Homo sapiens: one gene and its partner. The protein of the gene in region 2 purifies or fractionates together with the protein of the main gene of each other region. This does not show direct contact. Each region holds a gene or a part of one and is shown on either strand. Other genes may lie near its edges.

Region 1 (7,670 bases), on a different chromosome or scaffold from region 2:
GGCCAGGCTACAGTTTGAGAGAAAAAAAAAATCCCAAATCTCAGTGCCAGGCCCAGTACAGGTTCATTTTCAGCTTGTGTCAAATCTGATGTGGGCCGAACAGCTCTTCTCCATGAGGTAGCTCAGCCGTGTAGAACACATGGTCGCGGGGTGAAGGGAAGTCTGGACAAGGCCCCCAGTCTCCATGGCCCCAGCCTGAAAGGAACTCTTCCACTCACAGACCACACAGCAGGGGAGGCTGGCAAGGTGGGGGCACAGATTTCTGGGAGCCCCAACTGTCTGTCCCACTCGTATTCACCCGAAGTCAAGGCTAAGACTTCATCCTGACAGCACTGGGAAGTCAGCCAGGGTTTTCACACAGAGGTAGTGACAAGATGGGACTTGCATTTTCAGTTTTTCCTTTTTTCACTGTAGCTCTCAGATCTTATGACTTGTGTTTTAGAAAGATTCATCTGGCTAGAGGACTCCTCTGAAGCAGGGGAGCTGGAGTTTGGTGGAGCGGGGAAAGTGGCTGCAGCGGGAGTTGGCCACAGCAGAGGCACGATATATTTGTAGTTAACTCATGCAACTTCCACCTTGCAGGCTCAGCCAAAAAACCGAAAAAAAGAATGTGAGAAAAATCAATTCATGTAATTAAAAAACAATCCAAAAGCATTTTGTGTATGTCCTTTCCTAGATTGGAGATTGTCCACATTTTATGCATATATTCTGAATAGCCCAAACCCAGGGAGTGTATACTCTATGGGCCTTTTAAGAGATTTTCAGGGGTAACTGAGCTCCTGGCTGACTTGAGAACCTCACTGTCATGGAATTGCCCTCTACTCAGGGTCTGTAACTGAACCTAATAACAAAAGTAGGGAGGCTTGTGTCAAAAGGACTTCCTGCTGTTTCCCAAACAGTGTGGTGCCTTGCCTCTGGCAGAAACACCCTTGGATACAATATGAAGGCTTTATTTATTTATTTATGTAATTTCATTTTTTTGAGACAGAGTCTGGCTCTGTCCCCCAGGCTGGAGTGCAGTGGCACGATCTCGGCTCACTGCAAGCTCTGCCTCCCGGGTTCACACCATTCTCCTGCCTCAGCCTCCCGAGTAGCTGGGACTACAGGCGCCCCCCCACCACGCCCGGCTAATTTTTGTATTTTTAGTAAAGACAGGGTTTCACCGTGTTAGCCAGGATGGTCTCGATCCGCCTGCCTCGGCCTCCCAAAGTGCTGGGATTACAGGCGTGAGCCACCGCACCCGGCCCGGCATTTTTTATTTTTTGCTGAGACTGACCCCTACCTGCCTGCAGTTCTTTCTAGTTTATGAAGTGTTTTCTAAGCCATTACCTTATTTGAGCTTCAGGATTCTTTATTTATTTATTTATTTATTTTGAGACAGAGTCTCGCTGTGTCACTTAGCCTGGAGTGTAGTGGTGCGATCTCGGCTCGATGCAACCTCCATCTCCCAGGTTCGAGTGATTCTTGTGCCTCAGCCTCCCGAGCAGGGGGGACTACAGGCCTGGGCCACCATGCCCAGACTTTTTTTTGTATTTTTAGTAGAGATGGGGGTTCCACCATGTTGCTCAGGCTGGTCTCAAACTCCTGGCCTCATGGGATTCTCCTGCCTTGGCTTACCAAAGTGGTGGGATTACGGGCGTGAGCCACCACGCCCAGCTGAGCCTCAGAATAAATTAGATCTTTGATAGGAGATCTAATTTACATCAAGGAACTCAGAAGCTCAGACACACCTTGTCCCACAGTAGCCAGGAGCCCTGGAAACAATCCCCAATGTGGAGTTGGACGTGTTGGTTTCATGGCCACAGTTTTAGCTGTGGTTTCAGTATTCTTGTGTATAAAATATGGGTAACTGCACAAAGCTATTTTGAAGCTCCAGTAAAGCAAGGTTGGTGAAAGCATTTTGCAAACTGCTAAGCGCTGTCCAAATGTTGTATCCTCAGACTTTACACGTCACTGAAAGTGTTTCTGAGTCGTGCTAAAGAAATCCACGTGGAAGATTAAGGGAATTTATGCCTGCAGTAATGTCTTTGGGCTGCACCTACACTATTTGACTTTGAACTTAATTTCCTGAATTACCTTCACTGCTTGGGGAGCTGTGCCCATCATCTCCTGCAGGCCACAGCCCTGGCCCTCATTTCTGTGGGTTGGCAAGGGCTGGGGTGGAGGTGGGGTGAGCAGTTTGTTAGAGACCGCCCTGAAAGCCTTGCTGCCAGATCTCAGTGACATGAGTAAGGTCGTGTGGAAATATGTGACTTCCTGTTATGGAATTAGCCTGGGACAGTGAAGAGTGGCCTTGGGGTGAACCAGAGGGCACTTGCCCACCTGGGTATGGGTATCCCAGCTGCACTTGATTGTTACTTTGGGGGAAGGCAGTACAGTGTGAGCTAAATCTTCGGACTTTCCTAGAGAAGCCTGAAATCCACGTATCTTCATTTTTCATTCTCAGGGCAACTCCAGTGCCTGGGTGGAGTTAGTGCCTGAGTTGGTTGTGTAGCTTTGGGCCGCTGCTCTTGACTTCAGTTTTCTCATTTAAAATTGGTGATCCACCTGAGATCAGGAGTTCAAGACCAGCCTGGTCAACATGGTAAAACCCCATCTCTACTAAAAATACAAAAATTAGCCCGGCATGGTGGAACACACCTGCAATCCCAGCTACTCAGGAGGCTGAGGCAGGAGAATCGCTAGAACCTGGGAGGTGGAGGTTGCTGTGAGCTGAGATGGCTCCACTGTACTCCAGCCTGGGCGACAGAGCGAGACCCCCGTCTCAAAGAAAAAAAAAACCTGGTGATCTAGCTGGGCAACATAGGGAGACCCTGTGTTTACAAAAAATTCGCTTGGCGTGGTGGCCACGTTTCTGGTTCCAGCTACTTGGGAGGCTGAGGCAGGAGGCTCATTTGAGCCCGGGAGGTTGAAGCTGCAGTAAGCCGTGATCGTGCCACTGGACTCCAGCCTGGGTTACAGAACAAAACCTTGTGTCAAAAAATAAAATAAATAAAATTGGTGACCATACCACCTTACTTTGGTTGTTAAGATACAGAAGAGAAAATGGAATGCCCAGCCCACCACACTGGTCCTGGCTGCAGGAATCCACTGGAAACGCTAGTTCCTTGTGTTCTGGGTTGCTATTTGGTAACCTGCAGGCTCCAGAGGTTGTAATCCTGCTTGCCTTGGGGCCCACCACCCATATGATTAAAAGGAATAACGGGATTACCGAGGCCTTTAAAATTTTGTGGTCAAGGAGATAATATAAAGGAGTTTTGTGTATTAGGAAGAGAACAACGCCCCCACCCTGTCCTTTACCTCGTGAGTTCACGAGTGGTGTATTTGTTTTGTTTTGTTTTTGAGACGATGTCTCGCTCTGTCGCCCAGGCTGGAGTGCAGTGGCGAGATCTCGGCTCACTGCAAGCTCCGCCTCCCGGGTTCACGCCATTCTCCTGCCTCAGCCTCCCGGTAACTGGGACTACAGGCGCCCACCACCACGCCCGGCTAATTTTTTTGTATTTTTAGTAGAGACGGGGTTTCACCATGTTCGCCAGGATGGTCTCGATCTCCTGACCTCGTGATCCGCCCGCCTGGACCTCCCAAAGTGCTGGGAGTACAGGCGGGAGCCACCGCGCCCGGCCTCCGTATTTGTTTAAAAAAAAAAAAAAAAAAAAAAAGGCCGGGCGCGGTGGCTCACGCCTGTAATCCCAGTACTTTGGGAGGCCCAGGCGGGCGGATCACGAGGTCAGGAGATCGAGACCATCCTGGCCAACATGGTGAAACCCCGTCTCTACTAAAAAAACAAAAAAATTAGCCGGGCGTGGTGGCGCATGCCTGTAATCCCAGCTACTCGGGAGGCTGAGACAGGAGAATCGCTTGAACCCGGGAGGCGGAGGTTGCGGTGAGCCGAGATCGCGCCATTGCACTCCAGTCTGGGCGACAAGAGCAAGACTCCATCAAAAAAAAAAAAATAATAAAAAGGAAGAAAAAGAAAGACAAATGATTTACAGGAAAAAATTTAAGTAAACAAAAGTACAAATGCGATGTCAATCGTTCAGGTGGTGCCAGGGGACAGAGAACCGGGGAACACCAAGGTCTCATCGTCCCTGCAGAGCATCTCTGGGGGAGGCGACGGACAGGGCGCGAGCGCGGGGCTTGGAGGGCACCAAGGTCCAGGGGGATGGCGGGTTCAGTCCCAATCCCTCCGACCCGTGCTGAGGGCCTTGGAGGACCCCACTCGCCCAACCTCGGAAGCCCGGGTTCTGCCACTTCCAGCCACGCGTCCTTGGGCTGCGAAACTTTCTCCAGCCCAGTTTCCTCTTTTGGGACATGGGGAGGCGGAGGCTGCCAATGCTGGGATGGAGTCCTCGAGAGCAAGAGACCAGCGGCCTCGACGAGCTTACAATCCGATTAGGCCCTCCCACCGATGTGCTGTAGCTGCCCGCCGCCCTGGACCCGGCGCCGTCCCGCCCGGCTTCGGGAGCCCTCCGTAGCGGCCGGACTCGCGCGCGTTCTAAAATGAGGACAAAGCCCGCCCAGGTCTAGAGCGCGCGCGCCGTGGCGGCCAATGGGACGCTGAAGCTAGGTTGAGTGACGGACTTGAGCAGCCAATGAGTGTGCAGTTTGTTGCGATGTGGCACCCGGCTCCGGCATTATAAAGGGCGCCACGAGTCGGCATTGTCAGGCGGCGGCACCGCGCGGGACGGAGCTTGGCTGTTGGTCGGTGGGTTCCCGTGCGGCGGCGGCCAAGGAGGAGGAGACACAGTTGGAGCAGCTCCGTGGGCTGACTGGGGCGAGGCCTCAGCAGCGCGAGCTTGAGTGCGGCCGAGCCTGCGGCGCCTTCCCCTGCGGGTGGGGACGAGCGGGCCCCGCGGCGTCATCGGCGGCGAGGTGAGCGGCGGCCGGCGGGCGGGAGCTCTGGCGGGAGCCGCGCCGGCCTGACGCGCTGTCGCCGCTGGTTGCAGGAGCCGCCGCGCCTCGGCCTAGCATGTCGGAAGCGGGCGAGGAGCAGCCCATGGAGACGACGGGCGCCACCGAGAACGGACATGAGGCCGTCCCCGAAGGCGAGTCGCCGGCCGGGGCTGGCACGGGCGCCGCGGCGGGGGCTGGAGGCGCGACCGCGGCGCCCCCGAGCGGGAATCAGAACGGCGCCGAGGGCGACCAGATCAACGCCAGCAAGAACGAGGAGGACGCGGGGTAGGTGCGGCCGCGGGCGGACGGGGGCGCCGCCTTTGTTCCGGGGCCGCCTTTTGTTGGCGCCACGCGGCGGGGGGAGGGGCGGCGGCCTGGCCCGGGTCGGGGCTGGTGCGGCCCGCGGACTGTCGCCGCTGCGTTCGCGGGCCGGGCCTGGCGCTGCCACTCGCGCTGGAGTTTGCGGGAGTTTGTTGGGTCGACTTTGGCGCCGCCCCGGGGCCGCTCGCGCGCTGCCAGGGCCAGGGCCAGGGCCGGAGCCGGCGCAGGGGCGGGCGGATGGCCCGGAAGAGGGAAAGCGCTCGGACCCGGGGCCCGGCGGCGTCTTGGGCCGCGCCGGCGGCTGCGTGGGCGGAGTTGGCGCGAGCCGGGGCCCGGACCTCCCTCCTCCGCCTCTCCCGGGGGCGGAGTCACGGTCTGAACCCTGGGCGGGCTTGGTCCCCGGAAACATCGAGTTCCTTGAAACGAGTTCTCAGGAGTTGGTGGAGACGCTGGCCCTTTGCTACATGGTTGTAGAACACATGAATTTCCAGTTATGAGTGGTTAGGTCCCATACCCCTGGTGAGGTGGTCCCTTCTTTGCTTCTCACAGGCTGGGGCTGCAGAGCCTTGTTAAGCCTCGTTAGGGTCCTGGTTGAGTTCAATTTGGAGGGTAGTGGAGATTTAACATCTTTCTAAGGTGCTCCTTGCAGACTCTAAGGGTAGCTGTAGACTTCGTGAGAACTTTGCCAGGGCCAGTCCTTTCCAAAATCACAGCTTGCTTACAAGACTTGTTGCCGTGTGTCTCACCCTACCATTTCAGAAAAATGTTCGTTGGTGGCCTGAGCTGGGATACTAGCAAAAAAGATTTAAAAGACTATTTTACTAAATTTGGAGAGGTCGTTGACTGTACAATAAAAATGGATCCCAACACTGGACGGTCAAGAGGGTTTGGGTTTATCCTGTTCAAAGATGCAGCCAGTGTGGAGAAGGTAAGCTGGGTACTGGATTTCAGCAGTCTCAGTGGAAACGATTTGAATTCTAAGAGGACACCTTTCTTAAAGCATGACTAGTTTGTGTGGTCTGCATGTGATTTAAGTGCTTTGGGCAAAACCCAAAGCCGGAGGTTATGTTCCGGTTTTTGAGGGGATGAAAATACAGATTAAGCTGGGAGTGAGAGAATGTGCTGGAGTGGTTCGGGAAGATGACAGTTGACATTCATTACCTTTTATGTGCCTATTCTGGGTACGGCGCTAAACATCTGGGAGGATTACAAGAGAGTCCATGATTGGTATGATAGGCTTTTAGCCCCATTTTACAGGACAAAAACCAAAACCCTAAGGCTCAGAAATGTAAGTAGAAGAGGTCACAGCTAGTAGGGAGTGGAGGGAGGATTCCTTCCCCTGTGGCCCATCTTCAGCCTATGCTCCGAGTCCCTGCTGCTTCGCTTCTGGAGATGGGCCTCACGCTGGGACTGCTTGGGCAGGAAGAGCATGATCAAAGGCTTAAGTGTGAGGACTGTTTTCTAGGTGTCGAGGTAAACCAGCTGTACTTGAGGTTTGATGAAAATTGGGTTGGGAGGTTAAGCTGGGGTAGAATTTGGAGGGGGTGAAACACATGTTTGTATCTGTACTGGTGTCTTTATGGCTTAGAGAGAAGGGCCTTGTCTGGCTCGTGCTGCTGAGTCAGCCTGACCCCTTTCTGTTGGAACAGGTCCTAGACCAGAAGGAGCACAGGCTGGATGGCCGTGTCATTGACCCTAAAAAGGCCATGGCTATGAAGAAGGACCCGGTGAAGAAAATCTTCGTTGGGGGTCTGAATCCTGAAGCCACTGAGGAAAAGATCAGGGAGTACTTTGGCGAGTTTGGGGAGGTGAGTGTGGCTCTGGGAATAGCCCATCAGCTGCCCCTAAGGCTGCCTTCTTTCTGGTCCTTGGTATCCTTGGCTGGCTAGACCCTCCCAGGCAGGGCTTATTTTTCACCCTCTGTCTTCAATGGGGTCTTTTCTCCTGTGAGTCCCCTATATGCTCTGGGGTAGGGAGGTATTGGGCCTGAGTTTGCCTATGCTTTTTGCAGATTGAGGCCATTGAATTGCCAATGGATCCAAAGTTGAACAAAAGACGAGGTTTTGTGTTTATCACCTTTAAAGAAGAAGAACCCGTGAAGAAGGTTCTGGAGAAAAAGTTCCATACTGTCAGTGGAAGCAAGGTAAGGTGTTCCCAGCTCTGCTTGGCCTCCTGTGCTGCTGGAGAGCTGGCCCTTAGAGGGATGGGTTAGGGGTTGGGCCTCATGCAGGAGCTCTCCAGGTTGGTCAGACTTTACTATTTCTCTGAAGCGTATGCTGCCCTGATTGGGGCAGTGTTCCAATCCTTGAAAGACTTCTCAGGCTGGGAGGACTGCCAATAAACAACACAGGATGTGAGGGAGGTAGGAGAAGGTGGCCTCTGTGAATAGAGCAGGTTGAGTAGCCTCTTTAGCTCCTCACTTAAAGCTAGAGGTGACAGTTCTAGATTCTTGAGTC
Region 2 (7,018 bases):
CTAGAACCACTGGTCTGGGGAGGTGACAGCAGTCAGGCATGAACCAGACAAGAAGGTCACCAAGCCAGCTGATTTGGGAATGCTGGGGCAGGACACAGAGGACAGCAAGCGCCAAGGGACTCCACGCCTTGTCCGGCCACTGGGGATGAACAGCTGTCTAGGACTCCTTCTGTCCCACATAAGTGCATCAATGAAAGAGGGCACCCACCCTCTCTGCAGCTACACCCCCGTCACCGTGGCTTAGTGGCAATGGGGTCACGGGCCATGGACCCTAGAGCTGGGCAAGACCTGTAACCATCTGTCTAGAAGATGCTGATAAACCTCTCTGTTTTGATCCAAATAAGTCAAAGAGAGGCAAAGTGACTGGGCCAAGAGCAGCAGGCCATGCTAGCACCCACAGCCACGGTGGCCACATCCCCTGGTGTGCCGCCATCCCAGCCACGCTCGATTTGATTGCAGGCTCAGACTCCACCATGAGCGTGGCAGGGTCAGCAGAGTTATTCCCGGTGTTTAAAGACACAGCCTGCGGACTCTCATTATTTAGTCCTCTCATTCACTAATCTGTTCTATTCTCCATCCTAATCCCTCAACCCTGGTCTTCCAAGGTAAAGATTTCAGTGCATCTTTGACATGTCTGTATCTTCAGACAAGGGCCCTAACATATCAAAGGCACTTAGTGTTTGTTGCTTAGATATCTAAAATGACATTTTCTTCACTGGCCCTTAAGGCAAGCACAACAGCAAAAACCAACAGCCGTTCGACTTCTGTGAGGCAAGCACGGGTTTTAGAAATACTAGGGTAGAGAGGCGGCCCTGGAAGCCATCAAAGAATAAAGAGAAAAAGAAGAAACTTATCACCAAGGAGCAAAGACTTGGCCAGATGTCTGCCAAAATAGCAGGGTGAGACAAATCGATGGGAGGACAGTTAATTCCCTAATAGGCATTTTAAGTGCACTTGTAAACGGCCTCTTGTTTGTGAAGGGTCTGGAACAGGACCAAAACCCACAAACTCACTAGGATCTTCAAGCAGGGGAATTCCAAACTAATGCAAAAAGCCTTGTTCAAACACAGAAGTGCTCTACCTAAAAATAGTTCTAATTACTTTTTAAGACAGGTTTTCAAAATATTGGTTTAATTTTACACTGTTTATTTAAAATTGGTAATAGTTACCCTAATCGATTTTTAACAATGAACATTTTTTTAAAACCACACTGGACGGCTCAACTGTTCCTTTAATGAGCTTCCAAATAGGCCTACGGAGGAGCCAACACCCCACAAATAACTGCAGACACGACAGGCGCCTTCAACCTCTACACACAGACAGGCCTCCCGCCACTCTGGGCCCCTGCAGCAGGCGTGCTGCCCCGCTGGCATGAGTGCAGGTGCGCCTGCATTAACACATGAAACAAGCAGGTTACACATCAGTTCATGTATATGATCTCCTGCTTCTACAGAAATAAAAAGAGCTGCCCCGATACAAGTATACAGCCGCACAGTCCACTAATGAGGACAGCCCAGACTGTGGGACTCGCCATCCATCTCATAACTGCCTTGGGGGCCACATTACACACAAACACAGATTCCAGAAACCTTCAGACACCGAAAAAACATGTGCCATAGGCCCAAGCAATTAGGATATTACAAATGATCAGGAAATGGCAGGCGTGCTGTACCATCTGAATAGCGTTTGATGATTTTTTAAAAACATTTTGTTTATCCAAAATACTAATTTTCATATCAATTTAACCTCCACAGACAACACTTAGCTGCAATCTGTTTCTCAGACCAACCCATAGAGCATTAAGAATTAATGTGATCCAAGCAACTGGCGAATTCCAAAAGCATCATGAAGCTTAAGATCACTTCAAGCCAGAGCCCACACTTGTTTCACAGCCCTCACTTTTCCGGTCCTTGCCCTCTAGAGCACTTCTCAATGCAACAAAATCCAACCCAAGACCTTGCTGCAAATTAAAAGACCTCACTAATGAGATAACAAAGACTGGGCTTGGCGCGGTGGCTCACACCTGTTATCCCAGCACTCTGGGAGGCCAAGGCAGGCGGAACACCTGAGGTCAGAAGTTCGAGACCAGCCTGGCCAACATGGGGAAACCCTGTCTCTACTAAAAATACAAAAATTAGCCAGGCACGGTGGTGGGTACCTGTAATCCCAGCTACTAGGGAGGCTGAGGCAGGAGAATCGCTTGAACCCAAGGGGCAGGAGTTGCAGTGAGCCAAGGTTGTGCCACCGCACTCCAGCCTGGGCAACAAGGGCGAAACTCCATCTCAAAAAAAAAAAAGAAAGAAAGAAAAAGAAAAGAAAGAAAACAGAGACTGATTACAAATTTCAACTTCCTAAATTTTATTTAACCTCACTTTGCTGAAAATACACTAAGAATGGCCAAAAATTGCACATCTAAGGTAGAAAGAAGAAAAAGCAAAGTGAGTCAAGGCCATAGAACACTCTAAAATCAGGGGTCCATGTGTTTCTCTTTCCAAGCAACGTCACCCTAAGTTAAATGCCACGAATCCCAGAACCACACTGCTCACTTACTAAGCCATGTCTTGGGTCGGAAAGAACACAAGGCCAACAAGTCCAGACAAGGCAACAGAAAAAGGAGATGCAGCACACGAAGATACGAACTGGGAGGAAAGGAGAAGAAAAAGAAGTCCTGGCCCAAAGGCAGGGCAGGCAAGGCTGCGCTAACATGCCTGGTGTGGTCAGACACATCTTTGAGGACCCTTTTCTCGTCAAAATTTCACACCTGAAGGGGCTACTTCTGGAAGCCAAAGCCACCTACGCCATTTGAGGTTATTTTAACCACGATCATACAACATTCCAAAATTACCACCTTAAAACTCTCAAATATATAATACATATATTACATAATTATAACTAAACCTTTGACTGGCTCTAAGGAAACACTCATTTCTTTTGGATCAATGCTCAGGTTCTCTGCTTTCAGACCAGCAGCCTAGACGAGAGCTGGGCATTACTGGAGAACTCAGTCTTTTTTCCAGCTGATGCTTTTGGACACAGTCACACTGCTGATGTGATTCTTACATCTGACTTCCAGCAAAGCCCTAAAAACTAGTACACCTAAAATTAACTTACATGATCAATGCCTCCCATTCAAAAAAGTTCTCTTCATTCATGGGGCCTGTAGGGTGAGAAAAAATTTCACAACATTTTAACTTTGAAGGAACTTTGGCAATTAAAAGTAAATTATAAGGAAGTTAACTTTGGTACCTTACCTGCTACAATTCCTTCCGGAGGATTCAGTGTTAATTCTATAAAATTAATAAGTAAAACCATTACCAAACAGAATAAATGTTACATTGTCATTTTAACAAAACACCTTTACAAAATATATAAGCCTATAAACCATAGAATATGCATATTAACAAGTGAAAATTCTGTTTGCCCAAAGTGAATACCTAGTACAATAACGGTTCTGATAACAACTACACAAAGTTTTTTTGTTTTTTTTTTGTTTTTTTTTGAGACGGAGTCTCACTCTATCACCCAGGCTGAAGTGCAGTGGTGTGATCTCAGCTCACTGCAAGCTCCACCTCCCAGGTTCATGCCATTCACCTGCCTCAGCCTCCCAAGTAGCTGGGACTACAGGCGCCCACCACCACGCCCAGCTAATTTTTTGTATTTTTAGTAGAGACGGGGTTTCACCGTGTTAGCCAGGATGGTCTAGATCTCCTGACCTCGTGATCCGCCAGCCTCGGCCTCCCAAAGTGCTGGGATTACAGGCATGAGCCACCGCGCCGGCCCAAATAGTTCTTTATACCAACAAAACATAGACTTTTCTTTTTCTTTTTCTTTTTACAAATGCAAAAGCAAACATAAGGGGTACACTGTCTTTCCAAACTGTTCCTGCTGGTTACTTTGTTGCTTAGTTTTGAGACAGGGTCTCACTCTGGTTGCCCAGGCTGGAGTCCAGTGGGCAACCAGAGTGAGACTGGGGAAATTAATAAAACAGTAAGCAAACATACAGAAAAAAAAAAATCAATGAAACCAAAAGGTGGTTCTTTGAAGAGACAGAAAATTAATAAATCCTTGCCAAATAAATATAAGGTATAAGGACTGAAAAAGAAATAAAACTCATTATTCACAGATGCTATGTCCATATATACAGGAAAGCCCAAAAGAATCTAAAGATAATTAGTAAAAGTGAGTTTGGCACAGTTGCTGAATATGAGGCATATATATATCTTTCTAAAAGATATATAAAAATGCAAACAATCCAGAATAGCCAAGACACTATCTTTAAAAAGAATAAACAGAGGGCCAGGCGCGGTGGCTCACGCCTGTAATCCCAGCACTTTGGGAGGCCGAGGCGGGTGGATCACCTCAGGTCAGGAGTTCGAGACCAGCCTGGCCAACATGGCGAAATCCCATCTCTACCAAAAATAGAAAAATTAGCCGGGCATGGTGGCATGCACCTGTAGTCCCAGCTACTTGGGAGGCTGAGGCAGGAGGATCACTTGAACCCAGGAGGCGGAGGTTGCAGTGAGCCGAGATCGCGCCACTGCACTCCAGCCTGGGTGACAGAGCAAGACTCTGTCTCAAAAAAAAAAAAAAAAAAAAAGAATAAACAGAAAGCTTCATCTATGAGTTACCAAGCCTTCCTTACAGAGCTATGGAAATTAAGGCAACGTAGCACTGGCTCAAAGTTAAATTGAACAATGGGGCACAAGAGAAAGCCCAGAAGCATACCTGTACCAACAGAGACCCTGACTCGAGGGAACACAGAGCTATGGCCCAGAGGCAAAGGGCAGTCTTTTCCATGAATGATGCTCATCTCTAAGACAAAAAAAAATCAAACTTTCCCCATCTCACACCACATATAAAAATCAAAATAGGTAAGAAGAAAAATGGAGGCAGAGTTGAAAAGAGCCACTGTCAGAGTCAACACGAATGATGCTGTGGTCCAAACGCTTGCGTCCCCCCAAAATTCCTATGTTGAATCCTAATGTATGTGGTATTGGGAGGTGGGACCTTTGGGAGGAGATTAGGTCAGGAGGGCAGAACTCTCATGAATGGAGTTAGTGCCTTTATAAGAAGAAACGAGAGATTTGCCTCTGGCCATGTAAGGGCACAAGGAGAAGACAGTCATCTGCAAACCAGGAAGACAGCCCTCACCAGACTTCCCAGCCTCCAGAATTGGGAGCAATAAATGTTTGTTGTTTAAGCTCCCTGGTCTTTGGTATTTTTTTACAGCAGCCTGAACTGACTAAAACAGATGGCTAATAAGCACATGAGAAAATGCTCAACATTGTGAATCATAAGGGTAATGCAAATTAAAACCACAATAAGATACAGCTCAATAGCTTCAGCATTATCAGTATCTTTAGTCACAAAAGAATGGCCAAAATTAAAGACTTAAAGTGCTGGCAAGTTTAGCAAGTAGATCTCTCATGCACCACTGATGGGAATGCAAAATGGTTTGGTTACCCTTTGGGAAAGAAGTTTGACCATTTCCACTAAAATTACATATATATTGACTCTAAGACCCAGCAATTCTACTGGGTCTTATGTTGCCATAGACTTTTGTGTGAATGTTCATAGTAGCTAAATTCGTAATAGCCCCAAACTGGAAACAACCCAAATGTCCATTGATATGGTTTGGCTTTGTGTCCCCACACAAATTTCATCTTGAATTGTAATCTCCAGGTGTTGAGGGAGGAACCTAGTGGAAGGTGACTGGATCATGGGGGCAATTTCCTCCATGCTGTTCTCATGACAGTGAGTTCTCATGAGATCTGGTGGTTTTATAAGTGTTCGAAAGTTCCTCCTTCACTCTTCTTTCTTGCCACCTTGTGAAGAAGGTGCTTGCTTCCCCTTCGGCTTCTGTCATGATAAGTTTCCTGAGGCCTCCCTAGCCATGTGGAACTGTGAGTCAATTAAACCTCTTTCCTTTATAAATTATCCAGTCTCAGGGAAGTTCTTATAGGAGTGTGAAAACAGATGAATACAGTAAATTGGTACCAGGGGTACTGCTATAAAGATAACCTGAAAATGTGGAAGCAACTTCAGAACTGGGTAGTAGGCAGAGGTTGGAACAGTTTGAAGGGCTTAGAAGAAGGAAGATGTGGGAAAGTCTGGAACTTCCTAGAGACTTGCTGAATGCTTTTGACCAAAATGCTGATAGTGACATGGACAATGAAGCCCAGGCTGAGGTGGTCTGAAAAAGAGAAGAGGAACTTCTTGGGAACTGGAGCAATGGTCACCCTTGCTATGTTTCAACAAAGAGAATGGTGAGATTTTGCCCCTGCCCTAGAGATCTGTGGAACTTTGAACTTGAGAGAGATGATCTGAAATTGGAACTCGTGTTTAAAAGAAAGCAGGGAATAAAAGTTTGAAAACTTCGCAGCATGACGGTGCAATAAAAAAGAAAAACCCATTTTCTGGAGAGAAATTCAAATAAGTAACAAGGAGCCAAATATTAATCGCCAAGACAATGGGGTAAATGTCTCCAGAGCATGTCAGAGATCTTGGCAGCAGCCCCTCCCATCACAAGCAGGGAGGCCTAGGAGGGAAAAATGGTTTTGTGGGCCAGGCCCAGCCCCGCTGCTACTCTGTGCAGCCTTGGTACTTGGTGCCCTGTGTCCCAGCTGTTCCAGCTCCAGCCATGGCTAAAAAGGGCCAAGGTACAGCTCAGGCTGTTGCTTCAGAGAGTACAAACCCCAAGCCTTGGCAGCTTCCACGTGGTGTTGGGCCTGTGGGTGCAAAGAATTCAATAACTGACGTTTGGGAACCTTCACCTACATTTCAGAGGATGTAGGGAAACGCCTGGATGTCCAGACAGAAATCTGCTGCAGGGGCAGGGCCCTCATGGAGAACATCTGCTAGGGCATTGCAGAAGGGAAATGTGGGGTTGGAGCTCCCAGAGTCCCCACTGGGGCACTGCCTAGTGGAGCTGTGAGAAGAGAACAACCATCCTCCAGACCCCAGAACGGTAGATCCACCAAGAGCTTTGCACTGTGCACCTAGAAAAGCCAAAGACACT

What was found. The genes of interacting proteins can lie anywhere in the genome.
Region 1: the proteins of UBE2G2 (region 2) and HNRNPAB purify together in Homo sapiens (affinity purification with mass spectrometry; 2 studies listed by BioGRID, with this or other methods). This does not show direct contact.

The regions. Positions count from the first base shown.
Region 1 is NC_000005.10:178,199,869-178,207,538, forward strand, and holds the start of HNRNPAB (heterogeneous nuclear ribonucleoprotein A/B), read left to right. Parts: upstream 1-4,664; 5' UTR 4,665-4,872; exon of another isoform or gene 4,873-4,946; 5' UTR 4,947-4,969; coding exon 4,970-5,178; intron 5,179-5,973; coding exon 5,974-6,142; intron 6,143-6,863; coding exon 6,864-7,022; intron 7,023-7,225; coding exon 7,226-7,357; exon of another isoform or gene 7,358-7,670. UniProt on the Homo sapiens protein: Binds single-stranded RNA. Has a high affinity for G-rich and U-rich regions of hnRNA. Also binds to APOB mRNA transcripts around the RNA editing site.
Region 2 is NC_000021.9:44,784,809-44,791,826, forward strand, and holds part of UBE2G2 (ubiquitin-conjugating enzyme E2 G2), read right to left. Parts: intron 3,288-7,018; coding exon 3,252-3,287; intron 3,158-3,251; coding exon 3,112-3,157; intron 1-3,111. UniProt on the Homo sapiens protein: Accepts ubiquitin from the E1 complex and catalyzes its covalent attachment to other proteins. In vitro catalyzes 'Lys-48'-linked polyubiquitination. Involved in endoplasmic reticulum-associated degradation (ERAD).